Regions from separate parts of the Homo sapiens genome. Here region 2 is linked to region 1. Evidence: fine-mapped expression QTL. Tissue or cell type: lung. Region 1 holds a variant in brackets; the other region holds the start of a gene. All regions are shown on one strand. Distances are between the middles of the regions.

Region 1 (2,752 bases):
CACACCTGGCCTATTATTATTTTTAGAGATGAGGTCTTGCTTTGTCACCCAGGCTGGAGCACGCAGTGGTGAGATCATAGCTCCCTGTAGCCTTGAACTCTGGGCTCAAGTGATCTTCCCACCTCAGCTTCCTGAGCAGCTGTGACTACAGGTACAGGCCACCATGCCTGGCTAATTTATTTATTTATTTATTTATTTATTTTGAGATGGAGTTTCGCTCTGTCCCCAGGCTGGAGTGCAGTGATGTGATCTCAGGACACTGCAACCTCTGCCTCCCGGGTTCAAGCGATTCTCCTGCCTCAGCCTCCCGAGTAGCTGAGATTACAGGCGCCCACCACCGTGCCCAGCTAATTTTTGTATTTTTAGTAGAGATGGGGTTTCACCATGTTGGCCAGGCTGGTCTTGAACTCCTGACCTCAGGTGATCCGCCCACCTCAGCCTCCCAAAGTGCTGGGATTACAGGCTTGAGCCACAGTGCCCAGCCTGCCCAGGCTGGTCTTGAATTCCTGGCTTCAAGCGATCCTCCTGCCTGGGTCCTTCAATAAATATTGACAAGCACCTCCCTGCTGCCAGGCTCTGCTGAGAGTACTTTAGGTACATTGGCAAACAAGACAGAACAATAACAAAAGAAAAAAACACCAGATTTTTTTAAATTCCCAGGCTCATGGAGCTTACATGCAAGCGGAGAAGATGGTCAATAAACCATCAATGTCATATGTCAACTGTAGAGTAGCTCAGGAGTGAGTGACAGGTGTGATGGTAGGCAGAGCAGGGGAAGAGGGTGCAGGGGGTCTAGCTGTAAACAGGATGCTGTAGGGTAGCCCTCATGATAAGGGGTGACATTTGGAACAAAGACTTGAAAAAGGTGAGGACAAGAGGCATGAGGCACCATGCCCGGCTGCACTTGTGTTTAATGAAAACTATGATGGCTGCTGTGTGACCTTAGGGGACTATATTAACCTCTCTGGGCCTCCATTTCTTGGAGCATGAAGTGGTCCTTTCACTACTCACTTCCTGAGGTTCTGGGAGAAGTCTAGGATCATGCATGTTCTTGGCATAGAGTTTCTGTACGGGTGGCTCCCCTCCTGGTGCCAGGCCCTTTCCTGGGATTGGAGGGGGATGGACAGAGGGAATTCAGAGGTTTAAGGAGGCTGTGGCCCCATCTCCTGGGGCAAGGAGGCTATTGGTCTAGAAGGTCTGCATTTAGAGGGTGACATCTGTGCTGGGAGCGGTGGCTCATGCCTGTAATCCCAGCACTTTGGGAGGCCGAGGTGGGCGGATCATGAGGTCAGGAGACCGAGACCATCCTGGCTAACACAGTGAAACCTCGTCTCTACTAAAAATACAAAAATTAGCCAGGCATGGTGGCATGCACCTGTAGTGCTAGCTACTAGGGAGGCTGAGGCAGGAGAATAGCTTGAACCCAGGAAGGCGGAGGTTGCAGTGAGCTGAGATCACACCACTACACTATAGCCTGGGCAACAGAGCAAGACTCCATCTCAAAAAAAATTAAAAAAAAGAGGGTGATATCTGACCTGTGT[C/G]GAGGTGGAAGGAGGAGATGGGAAAGGCACTCAGAGAGTGGAAAATGGGCGTGCCTGGAGCTGGTGTCTGCAGCAAGGAGGCCAGAGGAGGAGGCACTGGCCTAGGCTTTGACCTGAGGGCACTGAGGTGCCACAGGAGGGCTGGGAGCAGAGGAGGGGCAGCGGAGAAGACCTGGAGGAGGCTGAGTCGAGGGCCCACAGGGAGAGGAGAAGGCCTGAGGTGGGCAGGAATGCAGGGACAGAGAAGGAACCAGGACCCAGTAGTCCATGGAGGAGGGAGGCAGGAGGGCTGGGAAGTTGGGCCTTTAAGAGTTGCATGTCTGCTGGGCACGGTGGCTCATGCCTGGAATTCCAGCACTTTGGGAGGCTGAGGCAGGCAGATCACCTGAGGTCAGGAGTTTGAGACCAGCCTGGCCAACATGGTGAAACCCTATGTCTACTAAAAATACAAAAATCAGTTGGGCGTGACGACAGGCACCTGTAGTCCCAGCTAATCAGGAGTCTGAGGCAGGAGAATCGCTTGAACTTGGAAGGCGGAGGTTGCAGTGAGCCGAGATCGTGTCACTGTACTCCAGCCTGGTGACAGAGCAGGACTCCATCTCAAAAAAAAAAAAAAAAAAATTTACATGTCCAGGGGGCTTGCAGGCAGAACCATTCACCCTCCAGGAGGCTGAGTCATTCCCGGGGATCACCTGCCTGCTGTGGCCACCCACCCGGAGGAGCTCTGTCTGCTGTCCCTGTCCCTGGCCTCTCGCTGGCTTAATTGTCCCTTTCATTCCTCCACTCAAATCGAGCGATATCAGCACGCCAGGCCCTGGACGTGTTTTGTGGGAACAAACAGGCCTGTTTGTCTACGTCCCAGGCGTAGAGAAGTTCGTCCCGGGGCCAGATTTGTTTTACAAGGTGGACAGCAGGCACAGGGTACCTGTTTTAGGAATGCGAGAATGCAGCCACGTAGGCATGTGGGTGGGGGACAGGGGGGTCCTGGCTCTGCGCTCAGGCCCAGAGAGTGGCAGGGTCGGGGGACATTTCCAGGAGCGGGAACAGCAGCTCCAGGGGCCCAGAGGTAGGACTACTGCTCGGTGCATTTGGAGGTCTTGGCTGGACTGTGGCGTTCATGGGGAAGGAGGGACTGAGTCTACAGGGCTGAGAGGCCACCACAGCTTGGGTTCAAATCCCAGCTCTGTTCAGCTCTTGTGTGGCCACAGTCA
Region 2 (2,752 bases), 20 kb before region 1:
TTTTTTTTGAGATGGAGTCTCTCTCTGTCGCCCAGGCTGCAGTGCAGTGATGTGATCTCAGCTCACTCCAACCTCCACCTCCCAGGTTCAAGCGATTCTCGTGTCTCAGCCTCCCAAGTAGCTGGGATTACAGGCACCTGCCACCACTGGTGGGGAGACTGGCTTCATGACTCCAGGACTCTGAGGGGTCAGGGACCAACAGCTGGGGAGGGCCAGGGTTTGGGGTGGGGGCAGAAGAGAAGAGAACACCGTCTATGCTGAGCTCACTGTGTACCAGATCCTCCACCAGCAGCTGAGAGTGTCTCCCTCAGTCCTCACAACAGCCCGATGGGTGCCATTCACAGATGGGGAAACTAAGGCAAGATGAGCCTATGAGCAAGATGGTTCCCGGCCCCACAGCTGGGAGGCACTGGAGCTGGGATTTGAACCAGGGCTGTGACCTTCAGACTCTCACGCCCAACCATATCTGGCAGTTGTCTCTCATATCTGTGTCTCTCCCTGTCCCTGACCTTTCTATGTATCTCTGTCTCTGCCCTCTGTATATCGCTGCTGGGTCTCTCAGGGTCTCTGACCCCTGTGTGTCTCTGTCTCCTCTGGGTGTCCGTGTGTCTCTGTCTCCGCCCTCCGTGTATCTCTGTTGCGTCTCTCAAGGTCTCTGGCCCCTGTGCATCTCAGTCCCCTCCTGGTCTCTGTCTCCCATGCCCTCTGCCCTCTCCCTTTCTCCCTGGCTCCCGCCCTGTCTGTGCTGCCGTGGTCCTGGCTGTGCCTCTGTCCCTGTGTCTGTTTCCAGGGTGCCCCTTACGCGTCAGCCCGTGAGGGCAAGTTTCTGTCTGCCCCTTCCCCAGCGGTGGCCTAGTGCTTGGAACAGCGCCTGGCAGACAGGAGATGCTCAGTAAATATTTCTCAAATGAATAAAGGAATGAATGAGTGAATGAATGAATGAATGAATGAACTCGCTGAGATGGGCGAGATCAGCGCCATTTCCCAAATGAGCAACGTGGGCTCCAGGTGGGTGCCCACAGGCCCAGAACTGCCAGCCCGGAAGGTTCTGGCGTGGGCTTGGCACTGACCCCCTGGACTCTGCCCCCAGCTGAGCACCAGACGCCAGGACGTGCCCATCACTGCTCCTCCCCGCCCTCAGAGCAGGGTGGCTCCCTCTGGCCTCTCCCCGCTGTTGGAGGCGTGGGTAGCAGCTGGGAGAACCGGCTGGGTGCTGCCCCTCCCCTTGGGCCGGGCACGGAGTAGGCACCTGGCGGGCTCCCCAGGTGGCAGACGCTGTCGCTGCGCACACCTGGCCTCTGTGCCGCCTGCTCCCTGCTCGTCCTCCCCTCCCCACCCTCACCCACCTGCCATGGACGGGCCCGCCGAGCCCCAGATCCCGGGCTTGTGGGACACCTATGAAGATGACATCTCGGAAATCAGGTGAGGCCCAGACCTGGGCAGGAGCCAGGAGATCCCAGGGAGGAGGTGGCTGTTTGGGGGAGCCGGGGACTGTGGCAAGGGTGGCCTCCAGCCACCCGCAGCCGCAGGCCTGGCCCAGACTTAGCTGGAGGGGCTGGGCTGGGCTGGGGCATCCAGTGTGGTGTATAGGTCCCTCCTGAGAAGGGAGTGAGGACCCGACCGTGTTGAGTCACCAGTGGGGATGCCTGGGGTGTCCCTGTCGCTCTCCGGGCCTCAGTTTTTCTGTCTGTCAAAGGGGCCCACAAGCCCTGTGTCTCCCTGATAGAGCAGTGGAAGAGAGCAGGCAGCTTGGTGCATAGTAGTTGCTCAGGAAACACAACAGCCTGTAGTACCCAGGACACCCCATGCAAGCCCTGAAATAACGGGGGTGCTTGGGGGTGAAATGGGAGAGACTGGGATGCTGCTGAGACCCCCAGAGGGAGAAGCTGTGTTCTAGGGCACTTGGGGCGGAGAGGGCAGGCTCTGGACTCTTCAGGTCTCCTAACAGTGGTTAGGGCAGAGCACTGCCCACTTCCATGAGCTCAGCGTGACTCCCTCTTCCTGGGGATGAGTCAGACACTTTGACAGTACCTGCTTTCCAGATGGGGAAACTGAGGCTGGGAGGGAACGCGACATGACCGCAATTACGCAGCTAGAAGCAAATCTGAACCCGGTCTGTCTCACGCCAGAGCCTGTGGTTTCTCCTGCTCCTCACAGCCTTGGTGATGTCCCCTTTACACCCCTCCCCGTGGCTCCATCTTTTAGGGGAGCGCAGAGGCCCAGAGAGGGCAGGCAGCCTGCCCCAGATCACACAGCAAACTGCTGAGACAATCTCCAACCCCTCGTATCTTGCACTCTTGCCAAGTGAGACCTTCCTGGCAGCCTGGGCCCCTCCAGCCACCGTGGGCTGTGAGGAGGGAGACAACCAAGACCTGTTCTCAGCCCAGTTGCCTCATTCCTTTCTTATTTTATTTTATTTTTTTGAAATGGAGTTTCGCTCTTGTTGCCCAGGCTGGAGTGCAATGGCACGATATCAGCTCACTGCAGCCTCCGCGTCCTGGGTTCAAGTGATTCTCCAGCCTCAGCTTCCCAAGTAACTGGGATTACAGGAGCCCGCCACCATGCCCGGCTAATTTTATTTTTGTATTTTTAGTAGAGAAAGGGTTTCACCATGTCGGCCAGGCTGTTCTTGAACTCCTTGCCTCAGGTGATCCACCTGCCTCGGCCTCCCAAAGTGCTGGGATTACAGGCGTGGGCCACCACGCCTGGCCGCCTCATTTCATTCCACTGTTTCAGGCCCTCCCCTCCCCTC

The links. PIP is the estimated chance that this variant, and not a neighbour inherited with it, causes the effect.
Region 2: SULT2B1 starts here. The variant in region 1 is fine-mapped to the expression of SULT2B1 in lung (TOPMed, PIP above 0.99). The same link has a PIP of 0.9 or more in thyroid.

Annotation. Positions count from the first base shown.
Region 1 is chr19:48,571,013-48,573,764 of GRCh38, forward strand. The region is part of intron 1 of SULT2B1 (sulfotransferase family 2B member 1); the gene reads left to right. Among named protein-coding and RNA genes, the nearest start is that of SULT2B1, 20 kb to the left of the region's middle. The variant C/G (reference allele first, on the strand shown) is at 1,542.
Region 2 is chr19:48,550,902-48,553,653 of GRCh38, forward strand. SULT2B1 (sulfotransferase family 2B member 1) reads left to right here and starts at 1,271. Exons shown (of 7, transcript NM_177973.2): 1 at 1,271-1,422. The coding sequence starts at 1,352. RefSeq lists an enhancer at 691-1,215.